4 separate regions of the Homo sapiens genome follow, and all the other regions are reported to be linked to region 1. Evidence: microRNA targets listed by miRTarBase, many of them from high-throughput screens and not tested one by one. Region 1 holds a microRNA gene; each other region holds the end of a gene's coding sequence.
The links. Region 1 holds the annotated microRNA hsa-miR-4776-3p (CUUGCCAUCCUGGUCCACUGCAU, at 1,962-1,984, opposite strand). A microRNA usually pairs through its seed, bases 2 to 8, with sites in the 3' UTR of a target mRNA and lowers its output. Matches are read on the target gene's strand: a 7mer-m8 pairs with bases 2 to 8, a 7mer-A1 pairs with bases 2 to 7 and ends in A, and an 8mer does both.

Region 1 (4,016 bases):
TATTTGAACTATGTCTTTTTATAGTATTTATTTCCTTAAGATCTTAGACATAAACCTAAGTTTGCAGGGAAATACTCATGTCTGAAAGGAGATGTTCTTAAATTGACATTTTACATATATCAGTTGTCACAACTTAAGATCCCACCTTTACTCAATAGTGCTTAAGGGGTCATGGAGGAAGATTTGATTGATTGTTTTTTATGTATACAAGGGGCAGGCCGGGTGCAGTGGCTCACGCCTGTAATCCTAGCACTTTGAGAGGCTGAAGCAGGTGGATTGCCTGAGCTCAGGAGTTCAAGACCAGCCTGGGCAGCATGGTGAAACCCCATTTCTACTTAGATACAAAAAAAACCAGCCAGGCATGATGGCTCCCGCCTGTAGTCCTAGTCCAGCTACTCGAGAGGCTGAGGCAGGAGAATTGTTTAAACTGGGAGGCAGAGGTTGTAGTGAGCCGAGATCGTACCACTGCACTTCAGCCTGGATGACAGAGTGAGTCTCTGTCTCCAAAAAAAGACAGAGTGAGACTCTGTCTCCAAAAAATGAAAGTATACAAAGGACAGTTGTTTTACCCAGAAAGGAAGAAATAAGAAAGTCAATTATTAGAAATTTGTTTAACTGGCATGTGTTGAGTTCCTATACCTTATTAGATACATTTGAACATTCTTTCATTAAGTTCTTAAAAAATATGAATTAGGTATTATTTTCATCTCCCATCTTACAGATAAGGAAACTAAGATTTAGAGAGTATAGGTCACTTGCCCAAGGTCACGGACTACTGGGAAGCAGGGACATGAATTGAATCAAACTCTTTTCAAATCTAAATTCAGTGCACTTAATTTCTGTGTCATGCCATCACACTTTCTCTCCATGAAAGCTAATTTCTCTTTTAACATTAGGTTTTATAGGTAGTTCTACTAATTATGTTTGTGAAGTTTTGTTTTCTTTTCCCTTCACAAGGGCTGGACACAGATCAGCATTCTCATGTTATGAATGATTTAGCTTCGGATTACTCTTCTGCAAATGGAGGGAGGAGGCAAACCTCAAATTAAAGGCAGGGTTGGAATATAAAAGTCTCAGCTCCTCAAGAGTCCAGAAAAACCTCCTCCCAAGAGTGCTGTGGCCTCTTGGCGCCTCTCCAGGCCCAGCCTGCCTGCAGGACTTGCTTGCTCCATCTTGCCGGTTCTCAACGGAGAACTCTTTGTTTTGGACCCTGTTCTTGTATTCTGCTCAGTGGACTTGAAAATTGGAAGTTTCCTTGCTTCCTGGTCCTTCCTGTGCCTGGGAAACAGACTTGGAATTCTTCTTTTCTTCTCTTCATTCAGCAAAAAGACAACCCCACCAGTTACCATTCCTTGTATTAGTTCTTGGAACCCAGCCTGGGCCAACAGTTAGGCCCCCTGAGAAAAGAAGCCTAACTTCATTTGCCTAGTCCTTCCCTCAATAGATTAAGAAATGAAGAGAAAAAAACCTTCTTAACATATACTACATAATACTAATATTTACTTTAAAAAAAAAATAAAGGCTTAACCCCTGCATTTTCATCACTTGAGAAAATTGATATAAGCTAATATTTTCAATAATTTAAAGAAAATAAACCATTTCTTTCCTGCTCCCCTCCCCTTCTGAATATTCGGCATAAATAGTTGCTTGGGTAGAATAAATTCTCACTATTCATTGGTTTGAATGCTTGTGTATATCCCAAGGGTATACACAATGACCTCTACACACATGACCTCTGTTTTACATAGTCAACTTTTATTTTGCTGAGGCAGAAATAATGCATGCAGCAAAGACTGCCAGCTGTTTACCAAAATCCCTTCTCCTCTTCTTCCTGAGCACACAGCTAGACTATACTTCCCAGTCTCCATTGCAATTCTGTGTGGCCACATACTAGAGCTCTTGCACTGCTGTGTTTTTGCATCCCCTTCTACCTTCTGGCTTCCTGAGATGGAGCAGACTATATGCAGTGGACCAGGATGGCAAGGGCTCTACTGTCCTTTCAGGAGAGCCCTTGCCATCCTGGTCCACTGCATATAGCCGAGCTCCCACTGACCTGGAACCCTCATCCTGGACTGTTGTCCAAAAGAGAGATAGATGTGTTTTTCCCTCAAACATGAGAAGCTGAATTTGGCGGTCTATTTGTTACGATATCATAGCCTGTCCTAACTGAAACAGGGCACATGTAGTATGTAGCACAAGTTTCTTAGCTAGTGAGAGTGCTTAGCAGAAGCTCAGTGCCTGCCCTTCACCAAGATTTGAGGTTTCCTACTCATGGAGTGTCATCAGTAACTCTTGCCAAGTGATAAATCTTTTGAATATTGGTGGAATATGATAACACAAAGTAAACTAACCCCTAAATGTTGGTAGCAAAAGTAAAATACAATTGAGTGTGTCTTAGAGGGCAAAGGTTCTTGGCTAAAAGGTGGTTGTTTTCTAGAGTTTAACAATAAAATACCAAACTCATATTAGAAATAGGAATAATTTTACCATATGCTCCACATATAGAAAGAATAAAAAACTCAATTCTGGAACTGTTTCACCAAATGCTTCAACCAGAATTTTAAAAATAAATATATAAATAACTATGGTCCTGAATTTATAATATTAATGATATGTAGGAATAATTTACATTTTTTGATTTAACTCACAACATTTCAGGTAGAAAATTATATGGTATATATATGGAAATTTAATGATTTACACACACCCACACTTACATATATACCGACATACAAAGTTATCACCTTATGATATATTCCTTCTAAATATTATTTGTTTGATCCAAACTCTAGGATGAATTTACCTTCTTAATTCTCTAAAACTATGATATTAGACCACATATTTTTGCATCTTAAATTGTAAAATTTCAGAACATAGAGAAAAGAAGAAAAGAGATATAAATGATATTTATTCAAGACTATTGAACTCATGTGGAAAAATAGTCCCCCGAGGACGTCAGGTCCTAATCCTTAGAATCTGTAAATACTACCTGATACAGAAAAAAGGTTTCTGTCTGTAGGAACCTAAGAAAAGACATTTTTAAATTAAAAACAATTAAAACATTAAAAATTTAAGGTCTTTATAGGTATGATTAAGTTAAGGATATTGTGATGAAGAGGTTATCACAGCTTATTAGAATGGGCCCTAGATGCAGTCACGTATATCCTTATGAGAGAGAGGCAGAGGGAGAGCTGACAACGAGGAGAAGGCAATGTGATCAGGGAGGCAGATGGGAGTGATGCAGCCACAAGCCAAGAAGTGCTGGCAGTCCCATGAGCAGGAAGAGGAAAGGCCAGATTCTCTCTTAGAGTTCCCAGAGGGAGCATGGCCTGGCTAACTCCTGGATGTAGGCCTAGTGAAACTGATTTTGGAGTTTTGTCCCCTAGAACTGTGAGAGGATAAGTTTATGTGGTTTTAAGCCATTGAGTTTGTGGTGATTTGTTATAGCAGCCACAGGAAACTAATCCAATTCCATTTTCTAACAGCTGAGTTCAACTTTGCTAAGTTTATATCTGTGATATTTTATCCTAAGTCTTTGGGGACCTAAGTTTGTTTTCCTTTTCCTTGGCCTGGAAAAGACAAATGTCCCACCCATTGTATTACATGTTGTTGAATGTCTTTAGTGAGCTCAAGAGAGGGAACATCTCTCTTCTCCAGCTGAGTCTGAGTCATTGAAAAACAGAGTAAGATAGATAGAGAGGAAATTATCAATTTTATCATTGTTAAAGTTGATTTTGGAGGATCGCCTTACTATCACTGAATCTCAGATTTAGAGAGACTTACCTACCTTATTTCCAACATTAGACAATGTACTCTAAAATGTAGGGTCTGAAATAGCAGAGCAGAAAGTATGCTTTCTCTATGCACATAGCTCTCAAGAGAATGAGGAGGTAAAGGGACTCAATAACATTAAATGATTCCCTCTTCTCCTGAGAACAGAGATGTCAGGACTGCTGTGCTAGTGGAAATCTTTTTATATGGAAAGAAGTGCTGGGAGTGGAGATGAAACATTTCCT
Region 2 (3,000 bases), not on the chromosome of region 1:
CTGTGCTTTTGCGAGTGGAGCAGGGGCAGTCTTAGCTTTGGAGGAAGCTCTGGACAAGCCCATCATCCCAACAAAAACCATTTTGTCCTTCTTAGAGCTTAGGACCTGGGGGACGCCCAACAAAAATCAGTGGCCCTCTTGACCCCAAGGAGCACATTTAATGACAAGATTTTTCTTATTTTATTTTTTTACTTTAATAGGACCAACATTTTCAGTGCCTCATAGAGGGACATTTCTGGCCATAAATTAGTTCAGAGTGATGCCTCTCTAGCGCCACCTCTGGCCTCTCTGGGCTCTTCCCTGGGGACTGATGCTGGACTAGATGAGCTTATTTTGGTTACGGAAATCTCTGGAAGGTGGGGAACCCCAAGAAAACACAATTCACACACTGTGGTACACAGGCTTACTTAAAACCATTTTTATTCTGCCTCTGAGCAACACTTTTCATTTGATTTGGGTAAAAGACCAGGGACCCAAACACGCACAAACAAAAAACAGGATGTCAGAAACAGAAATCAGGGTCCAATCTATTGGAATGATGCTAGAATCTCTGTGTGCTGAGATTTCGTGTCCCTGATTCAACGTCCTCCTGGGACAAGTGCTGGCTCATCACAACATCCGGGTAAAATGACAGGTTGAATCTGATGTTCATCAGAATTTTTTTTTTTTTTGCTAGGGTTCAGTATATGAAAAAATGCTGAAATTTGTATTGGTATAGTACTTAGAATTCTCCCCGCCAATGGTTAGTCACAACTATTACAACAATTAATTCTCATAACAGCACTGTGAGGTAAGTAGGCAGGCATTCTTATCCCCATTTTGCAGGTGAAGGAATTTTAGGCACAGAGAGGCTATGAAACTTGCCTAAAATCAGCTTGCATAGCTAGTTAGTGGCCAATAAAAACCCTGCAAAAACAAAAGGGCGTTGGAACTAGGTATTGACTCTCAGCCTCTTATTCATTCAATTAGAATAATCTGCCTTTCTTTTTTCTTTTTCTTTCGTTTTCTTTTCTTTTTTTTTTGAGATGGAGTCTTGCTCTGTCACCCCGGGCTGGAGTGTAGTGGCACAGTCTCAGCTCACGGCAACCTCCGCCTTCTGGATTCAAGTGATTCTCCTGCCTCAGCCTCTCTATTAGCTGGGATTACAGGCATGCACCACCACGCCTGGCTAATTTTTGTATTTTTAGTAGAGATGGAGTTTCACCATGTTGGTCAGGCTGGTCTCAAACTCCTGACCTTAAGTGATCTCAGCCTCTCAAATTGCTGGGATTACAGGCGTGAGCCACCACGCCCGGCCAGCATAATCTGCCTTTCTTTTGCTTCATTATCACCATCTTTCTGACATTAATTCTTTGAAGTGACTTTTGCCACATATACTTATCTGGTGTGTTAATTACTTGATATTTTCTTGAGTTCTCTTGTTTTTCTTAATTTATTTGAACAGAAACAATATGTCACATCCCCCACTGTGGGAAGCTGTAAATGGAAGGTAATAAATAAAATAAATACCATGACACAAAACAATATCATTAAATTCTATCTAGACAGAAGACTCTGAGGCCTGCTCTTTCTTTGCTAAAAAGGGAAAAGAGCCATAGTGTCTGAAAGGTGTAAAGGACCTGCTAGCACTAAACAGAGACTTTTTCCTTGCTGTAATCAGGATGAAAAAAGAATAGAAAAGGGGAAACATTCTTTGTGATTTGGTATTACTTAATGTTGTTCCTAGAAACTACTTAAAAATTATCTTGTGTACCACCAGTGGCACACCCCTTGTGCTCTGTGAGACACTGGGTTACTGCGTTCTGGCAGGCAGAATAATGGCATCATTAAACCAGTACATTCACATCTAAAGGGTTTACATTTGACAGAAAAGAAACACAATGGGTGGCATTTCCAGGTGGCATCCAGGAAAATCAAAGATCTTGCCTGAGACTTGCTAGAGATAGGAGAGAGAGTGAGAAATTGAAAAAAAAAAAGCACATTCTATAAATACAGCCAGTTTATTCCCAAAACTGGGATACAGGAAGTGCTCATGTACCTAGAATTGGCCACTAAGTCCATTCTCAGAGCCTGTTTGAGTGAAGAGTGAGGTTTTGGTCAAGTTGACCAACGTGGATGCAAGCAAGGGAGGGGGCCTATTTGGAAATATAAGCATCAAGACAAAAGGCCAGAAAAGCCCCTTCTTTGAGTGTTTGATGACCAGATGGGTGAACTCTGGGCATGGGAGTGCTGACTCCCAGAGGAGGAGTTACTGAAGGTTATAAGAATAAAAGGAAAAGCAAATCCACAACTTGAACTCTACTAGACAATTTTAAACATGCTGCAAATGTTTGTGCTCAACATTGTAAATACCAGCACCTGCTGCTCTTCCTAGAAACCTCCATCTCCCCCTATATGGAGACCCCCTGGATCCCCTCAGTGAAAAGTTATGTGATTTCCTGAGGCTCGCCTCTGGAGGACAGGAGTGGACACAACGGGATTCGCTAAACTGAGACAGTGAGACTTCATTTTTCTTTTTTCTGTTTTCTTTTCATTTTTACAAATCAATGACTTTGGCTGATCCGGCTGTGCAGCTTGGATTGCCTAAATTTTGGACTTTTTTTTTTTTTTTTTCTTGTTCATTTGCCAGGGACCTGCCTCTGGAGAGTCCTGGAGGAAAAGATCTCACAGTCTGAAGTCAAGGATCCATTCCTTAGAAACTCCTTTGGGGTGTGTGTGGATGAGGTCCATCCTCCACGCTCACAGCCCACTGACCGCTGGTTCCTCAGGCACTGTGTGGTACAGACAGAGAGAGAGAGAGAAAGACCGTGGGCTGAGCTTCTGTGGTTGGCTTTCCCAGCTCGATGCCTTCCTTATTTGATGATGATGACTCTGGTTAAACACATGTTGAAATGTACCAGCCTGCGTGCACACTTTTGACTCTAAGCAGGGGCTTCCTTTTGAGAAACATATTCTATTTGTAAAACTTATTTTATCTTACATGTGGTACGTGCAAAAAAA
Region 3 (3,000 bases), not on the chromosome of region 1:
TTCCCACCCAGGGCGCGGGTCCCGGGGGTGGCGGACAACGGAGGGGCTCGGGAGGAGGAGGAGCCCGGGGGCGTTGCCACCCCGCCCCGAGCCGGACTTGGTCCCTGTGTTCCAGACGAGGAGGAAGAAGAGGAGGAGGAGAGCGAGGACGAGCTGCCGCAGGACATCTCACTGGCGGCTGGCGGCGAGTCACCCGCGCTGGGCCCGGAGACCCTGGAGCCGCCGGCCAAGCTGGCGCGGACTGACGCGCGCGGCCTCTTCGTGCAGGCGCTGCCCTCCAGCTAAGCCCTTGGCCTCCCCGCCCCACCCGCCCCCGCCACCCCTCCACGCCAGGGTCCCTCAAAGCTTCTGTGGCTTCGTGGTCACTGCTCCAGCCTCAGCCAGGGCAGGGAGGGGGACTCCGAGACAGGGAAGACCGGGGCCCTCCTCCCTTATGGGGCCGGCACAATCAGTGGGCTGGGCGGAGCCGCAGCTGCAAACTCTGACACAAAAGACGTGCCTTAAGGAACCCGCCGCGTGCCCAGGTGCCCCGCGGGGCATCCAGCTCGGCCCCTTGGCCGCCCCCCTCCCAGGCCCCAGCGTCTTCTCCCCAGCCCCGTCCTCCCACCACCCCAGGGGGCAGGCAGGCAGGCCCCCTCCCGTGCGAAACTGTTAACTTATTCAGCTCGCTGGCTTTGCACAGCCTGTCCTGGGCCCAGCCCTGAGCCCCGGGCCGGCGCAGGTGGGCGTCACCTGGGGACTCCCCACTGTCAGCAGCAGCCCCGGGACACCCTACCCCCAGCAACCCCACTGCTTCCCCTTCTTGGTATTAAGTGCAATTAAAGCCGTGGGTGTCGCATCTTCTCCAGCGCTGGGCCCTCCCTTGCCCCCAAGCTCAAGAAGGGGGCACTGCCCGGCCCGGCTGTGAGGAGGGCGGCAGGGGGCACGGCCTCCAGCTTCCAAAGAGCAGCGAGCCGCGGAGCCGGGGAGTGCCCACAGACCCCAGCCCCCGCGCCCCCGCCCTCCGCCGCTGGTTTGTAATGGAACCTTTTCTGTGCCCCTATCTTCCCGGAGACCACGCTTCTCCTCCGTGCCGTGCGACCCCCACCCCATGACTATTGTGCGATTCGTGAGCGCCGCCCGAGCGGAGTTGGTAACTTGTTGGGTTTTTTTCCAACCATCATGGCCTTATCTGTTCCAGTTTTCTCAGTGTTTTCAGCCTGTGAGATAGATGTTTATGGCAAGAAAAAGGAAAAAAAAATGGAAATCTGACCTATTGTATAAAAATCACTATTTTGTGTGCTCCGCGTGCTATAGCTTTTGGGGCGGCCCTGCCCAGTCCCCGTGCCCACGGGGCTCCCTCTCCCGGTGGTGAAAGTGTCCACACGTGTGGTAGTCTAGTGTGCCGAGCTGTTTTCTACCTTTTTGTAGTCTTTCTTAAAACAATAAATTCCGCTGTGATATTTGCCTACTGCTGACTCGCCGGGCCTTGGTGGGGGCCTTGGGGCGGGGGCTCCAGCTGGGCCCCAAGCTGCAGTGACAGGACCTCAATGAGGTTCAGAAATTAAAACATTTATTACATGAAGAAGAACGGAATGGGGATGGCCAGGTTGCCGGCCTGGGTGGGGAGGCTGGGGGCGGGCAGGGCAGGGGGAATGGGGTCCATTCGACCTCCCCGAGGGCAACGTCCACAGCTGTAGCCGAGAAAAGGGCAAATGCACGAGGGGCCAGGCCCATGCCCAGCTCGGGGTGAAGGCGGGGCACTCAGGCTGGTGGGGCAGGGGGCGCCCTCTCTCTGCCCCTTCCCAACTTAAATAGGCATAAATAAAAAGCGTCCAGACCCTCAGGCCAACAGAGGCTGCCCTGCCCAGCCCCGTTCCGCAGGCTAACACTAGTGCCGGTCATCAGTCGGTGGGCCAGCCGGCCAGGAAGAGGCCACCCCAGGAAGGGGGCCGGTCCCAGGCCACGGAGGTAGTTGGAGTCAGTGTCCGGGGCGGCCTGGCCCTCACAGCACGATCCACGTATATCGCTCGCTGTCCGCCAGAACCTTCAGGGAGCACCCTACAGGGACAGGTGGAGACAAAGCATAGAGCCCCTGCCTGCCTGGCCCTGCGGCCACACCCTCCACCTGACTTGCTTCTGGCCCAGAAGGTTCCAGAAGGCAGGGACCCTGCTGAGTTGCCCTCCACCTCTAGCCTGCAGCTACCCAATAAATGTAGCGTGAATGAGTGACCAGCCAGGCCATGACTGGTGGGAGGCTCCCAGGCCCCACACTTTCAGGGCTGCTGAGCTGGGCCTGGCCTGGGCTGCCCTCTCCTCACCAGCCTTCCCACCCATTTCATCAGCGCTCAGGAATCAGCTCCTGGGTGAGGACAAGTGTTCCTGGTGACCCTGACCATCACGGGGTCACCGAGCCCCACCTTTGTGCAGCGCCTCATTGGTCATCCTGTTGACGTAGCGGCCGCTGCTCTCCGGCACCAGCCACTTCATGACCATGTCCACGCAGCTCTTGCGGTAGGAGCTCCAGACACTGCCGCTGCGGGGCCAGGGGGTGAGTGGCTCTCGTCGCCTTGGCCGCGCCCTGACCCTGCCCCCCAGCCCTGCCTCACCTGGTCTGCCCTTTGACCTCAGTCAGGTCGCCTACACTGACTGTCTCGAAGATCCCTGTGTTGAGGTCCCATGCCACCTTGAGGCTGGTGTGATAGGTCTTTGGTCTACAGTGGAGAGGGACATAGGACAAACGCTGGGACAGCCGGGCTCCTGAACCAGGCCCCAGGCTACCCTGAGGGCCTTTTGTCTTTGGAACAGCTATGGAGGGGCCCAGCCAGGTTGTGGCACAGGGAGAGCCTTCTCACGTCCCCACACCCCCACCGTGAAGTGTCTGCCAGTGGCCCCCCTAGTGGACAGAGAGGGCAGGATCCCCGCGCTCACCGGAGCTGGCCCTCCTCAGTGGGGGACGGGAAGGCCAGGAGCAGCAGGCCAATGTTGATGAGGACCTGGTTGGTTTCTGGGCAGACCTGG
Region 4 (4,016 bases), not on the chromosome of region 1:
GCAACCAGGAGTGCCTGTGCTCAGCCCAGACTCTGGTCAACTATGGCACGTGCATGTGTTTGGTGCAGGGCATCTTCTACCACTGCACGAATGAGGACGATGAGGGCTCCTGCGCTGACCACCCCTGCTCCTGCTCCCGCTCCAACTGCTGCGCCCGCTGGTCCTTCATGGGTGCTCTCTCCGTGGTGCTGCCCTGCCTGCTCTGCTACCTGCCTGCCACCGGCTGCGTGAAGCTGGCCCAGCGTGGCTACGACCGTCTGCGCCGCCCTGGTTGCCGCTGCAAGCACACGAACAGCGTCATCTGCAAAGCAGCCAGCGGGGATGCCAAGACCAGCAGGCCCGACAAGCCTTTCTGACAGTTTGTGTCGAAGCCCCAGTGCTCTGCCTGGAAACCTGGTTCTCTTCTGACATCTAAGAAGACTGCAGCAAGGTCAGAGGTTTTAGCCTCCTGAGGCTGACCTTGCTAGTCTGCCCACTCCCTACCCCCAGCTTCGGAAAATACAGAGACCACCACCACGTACCCTGTATTCCCCAAGGTGATGAAGAAGCACTTTGGGGCTTTTTTTCAGGGTCCTGAAACTTTGTGTCAAACAGACAATGCAGGGGCAGGGTGTGGTTTGGGGGGAAATTTTTCTTTTTCAGAAGACAGAACACAGATGTGGACACATATCCGGAAACTGCAGCTGCTTGAATGCCTTCCCAGCCCCTCCTTCTCCCTCCCTCCCTCCGCCCCCCCCCCCTTCCTCTTTTCCATTGTCTTTGGCTCTCACAGGAGCTAGCTGCCTGGGAGGAATTGTTAACTGAGTACCAGGGTACCTTTAAAGAAGACCCTTGGAGTCTTCTATACCTTCTTCTCCTTCCCCATCTCACTCCACCCCACTTTGTCCCTGATGTCTTGGGGAAGGTGTAGAACACCCTAGCAGTTCCTATTGTATATACTTGGGAGCCACTGAGAACAGAGGACGGCCAGTGAGTCCAAGCCTCGTTCCTCCTTCTGCCTCCCCGGAGCCACAGGATGGATTTAGGAGCCACTGCTCAGTGCACTTCTCCCTTCCAACTGCATCAACTAACTCTCGGGGGTGTTCTGCTCACCACACCGTCCTTCGGTTCTTACTGAGTCACAGACTCGCCTGCCCACTACGTGTCCTGGGTTCTCTCTACTCAGATCCCTTCCAGAAACTTTATATGGGTAGAGGAAGCCAGGGCGGCAAATGCGAGACCAAATATCATTTTGCCAATGAGTCTGAGGCTGTGGTCTCTGGATCCAGTCATTATGTTTTTATAGAATAATTAAACCGGATGCTAACGGTGTTTTAAAAAATAATAATAAAACAACTTGTTTCCTTTTGGCCACCCCCAGGAAGGGCTGATTTCAAAATCTGGGGGCGAGCAACCTCAAGGAACACAATTTCCCTCCCTATCAACAAGAGGATTTTAACAGCAAAGAAGAGAGGCAGCACCTCCCATTGGCAGAATGACCGCTGAGCCAGGCTGGGTTTGGGTTTCTTCTCTTCTGATTCTGCTGCTCACTGTCATAGCCTTTTGTGTATAGTGATGTGTCTGTATCTTTAATGTAAATAGAGAGATGATGAAAAAAGAGTCTATTTTAGTGTTAGGAAGCCCCAGCAGGGGAGTCGGAAGAGCTTGGAAGAGCTGGGGAGAGGGTAGGGGAAAGGTTTTTCCAGGGGCCACTGGGTTTGAGCCCTGCTTCTGTGCACAGCCACACCACCCTCTCCCGACAGCCCTCAAAGACGTAGCAACTCTTTCTCTCAAGGTGCTAAAGGACTCAGAAGGTGCAGCACGTCCAGTGGGTAGGTACTTGTTGCATGCAAAAGCTGTAGTGTATCTGGTCCTTCCTCCCCAGCTTTTGTGTGGGGTTCTTGCTTTGTGTGGTATTTTGTTTTCCCCTCTAATGAGAGGGCATGGCCTGAGTCAGAAGAGCTACCCCAGGTGAAACTGGAAGTGCATGAGGCAGAGCGTCCGTAGCATTTCCAGTTTGTTCTGTATAGGAACAGAGGTGCCTCCGGGAAGGAGGCAGCGAGGTAGGTAGCTATGATAGGCACCTAATGCTTCTCAAGGACTTATTTTTTCCTTCTTGAAGACTAGTAGTAACATCTTATGATTTAGAGTAAGTTGATTGTAACCATAGGTATTTATTGATTGGAGGAAGGGAGGGTCATATTATTTTCGGCTTTATTTATGTAACATTTGCTAGCTTGTAAAAGGCGAATGTGAAATATTGCATCTGCATTTTCCAAGGCTGATTCGTGTAGCTACCCTTGCCACAGTTGTGACGGATGTATGGATGTTCTTGAACATTTCAGAAGGAGTGGTAGAAAAAAACACACATTCAGCCAACCACTTATATGAATTGAATGTATCAGAAGTGTACTGAAGGGACTGGAGATGGTTTTCCTCAGATGAGGGGGCCCCAAAATTGATAGTGCACATCTGCACGCTTTCTGCGAGGCCTCAGAACTTCCCAGGGCCCCTCCCTCAAATTGTCTCCATGGGAAACTTGACCCAGTGGCAAGTTGCACTTTGGTGATCTTGGTGGTCTACACACCCGTTCTGTGGAGAGTCGATTTACATAAGCTGTGTATACACACACACACACACACACACACACCCCTACCCCACACTGACTGTCTACCGACAAAGACCCTATTTCCTGGCAAACGGCCTCCTGAACCCTGACTTTTTGTGTACATACTTGTAAACACGGATTTTTCTGGGTTTTGGTTTGCTTTTTCCTTTTTTCCCCCTGCCCCTGTTCTAGCTTGTTCTTCTTGGTTTGCTTTCAACCTGCTTGATGGATGTCTGCAGAGTGCTCTCTAAGAGTCCACCTCAGTGCCTCGTGTGCTCAGTGGTCATGGGAAAGGAGCGAAGGAACCATCCTTGGTTCTCCCAGCTTGGTTGTGTAGCAATCCCTCAGCATTGTTTTTCTCAGCTTCTTGGCAAAAATTAAAACAACAACAACAACAACAACAACAACAACAAACAGAAGGATAAACTGGCTTGCCTGTGGACCCTCCCCGGCTCTGGGGCCAGTCGAGAGCCACTGAGGGACCCAGCACTCAGAGACACAACACACATGTGTAGCTGCTTCTGGCTGAGTGTGTTTCCTGTCACCAATGGCCTGTTTGGCTGGACGATGCCTCGGCTTGACCTTTTTTGAAAAGTGCTGGTTAGTTCCCGCCCCTGGTAAACCTGGGGTAGGTGGGGGTTCTGTCTTAACTCGAGGGGCACCTGGGATCCAGGACGCTTCTAGGGGGCTCTGGCTGCCCGTGTTAATGAAGGACAGCGCTTCCGCGAGCACCCTGGGAACTGGGTCTTGGGTAGCAAAGCCCTCCCAGAGAAAAGATTGGGCACAACTAAGGCTTTCCTGAGCAGGAAGGGGGTGAAGACCAATCCCTTCCTTTGGTCCTTTGGTACGCACCCCCTCAGAGCTGAGATGGAAGACATGGCTAGTTCTTTTCAGCCTTGTGGAGCCTGTCAGTCGCCATCATACCTCGAGTGAGGCCCAGCTAGATAATGACTTGTCCAAGATGGCACACGTGGAAAGTTGATCTGCACCAGAACCCGGATGACTGTCACCTTGAAGCATCCTGTTCTCCTTCTGTGCTGTCCCAGGAAGTGTCTGGCGGGCGTGGGCAGCACAGCTCTACACTGTACGATTCACTAGGGCATCCTGCGAGCCTCACTAGCCTTCTGGTTCATGCCTTTGACAAGCATTTTTGTGCCCCCTCTGCTTACTGTGACAGTCGATGATGAATCTTGCGTTGCCATTTTCTGCTGTGGGTAACTGCGTGCAGTGTCTTGCCTTGCTTTCTCTTCTTACTGTCCCACAGCTTGGTTTCATGTTACAAACAGAAAAGCTCGAGGCTCCCACCCCGCCACATCCCAACTTCATTTCCCCCTCACTGTAGCCCATTTCCACCCCACCACAAAGTTGCCACAGGTTTTCTTTGTATAGAATATTTATTTTGAAGCTCTATTTTAATAGTATTTATTTT

Region 2: the mRNA of TMEM233 is a reported target of hsa-miR-4776-3p. Seed matches in the 3' UTR shown: 7mer-A1 at 2,622-2,628 and 7mer-A1 at 1,364-1,370.
Region 3: miRTarBase lists RFX1 as a target of hsa-miR-4776-3p. Seed matches in the 3' UTR shown: 7mer-m8 at 1,217-1,223.
Region 4: miRTarBase lists SPRY4 as a target of hsa-miR-4776-3p. Seed matches in the 3' UTR shown: 7mer-A1 at 2,673-2,679 and 7mer-A1 at 2,956-2,962.

What each region holds. Positions count from the first base shown.
Region 1 is chr2:212,924,278-212,928,293 of GRCh38, reverse strand. MIR4776-1 (microRNA 4776-1) reads right to left here and starts at 2,037; the gene lies at 1,958-2,037. It overlaps MIR4776-2 (microRNA 4776-2), which reads left to right and starts at 1,958; the gene lies at 1,958-2,037.
Region 2 is chr12:119,640,470-119,643,469 of GRCh38, reverse strand. It overlaps TMEM233 (transmembrane protein 233), which reads right to left. Exons shown (of 3, transcript NM_001136534.3): 3 at 395-2,771. The coding sequence ends at 2,765. The region is part of intron 1 of PRKAB1-AS1 (PRKAB1, TMEM233 and CCDC60 antisense RNA 1); the gene reads left to right. Among named protein-coding and RNA genes, the nearest start is that of PRKAB1-AS1, 26 kb to the left of the region's middle.
Region 3 is chr19:13,959,980-13,962,979 of GRCh38, reverse strand. RFX1 (regulatory factor X1) reads left to right here. Exons shown (of 21, transcript NM_002918.5): 21 at 116-1,450. The coding sequence ends at 285. DCAF15 (DDB1 and CUL4 associated factor 15) reads right to left here. Exons shown (of 13, transcript NM_138353.4): 10 at 2,911-2,996; 11 at 2,589-2,693; 12 at 2,400-2,515; 13 at 1,531-2,040. The coding sequence ends at 1,985. Among named protein-coding and RNA genes, the nearest start is that of DCAF15, 9.0 kb to the right of the region's middle. RefSeq lists an enhancer at 2,816-3,000.
Region 4 is chr5:142,310,549-142,314,564 of GRCh38, reverse strand. It overlaps SPRY4 (sprouty RTK signaling antagonist 4), which reads left to right. Exons shown (of 2, transcript NM_001127496.3): 2 at 1-4,016. The coding sequence ends at 356. Among named protein-coding and RNA genes, the nearest start is that of SPRY4-IT1, 5.8 kb to the left of the region's middle. RefSeq lists an enhancer at 3,146-3,647.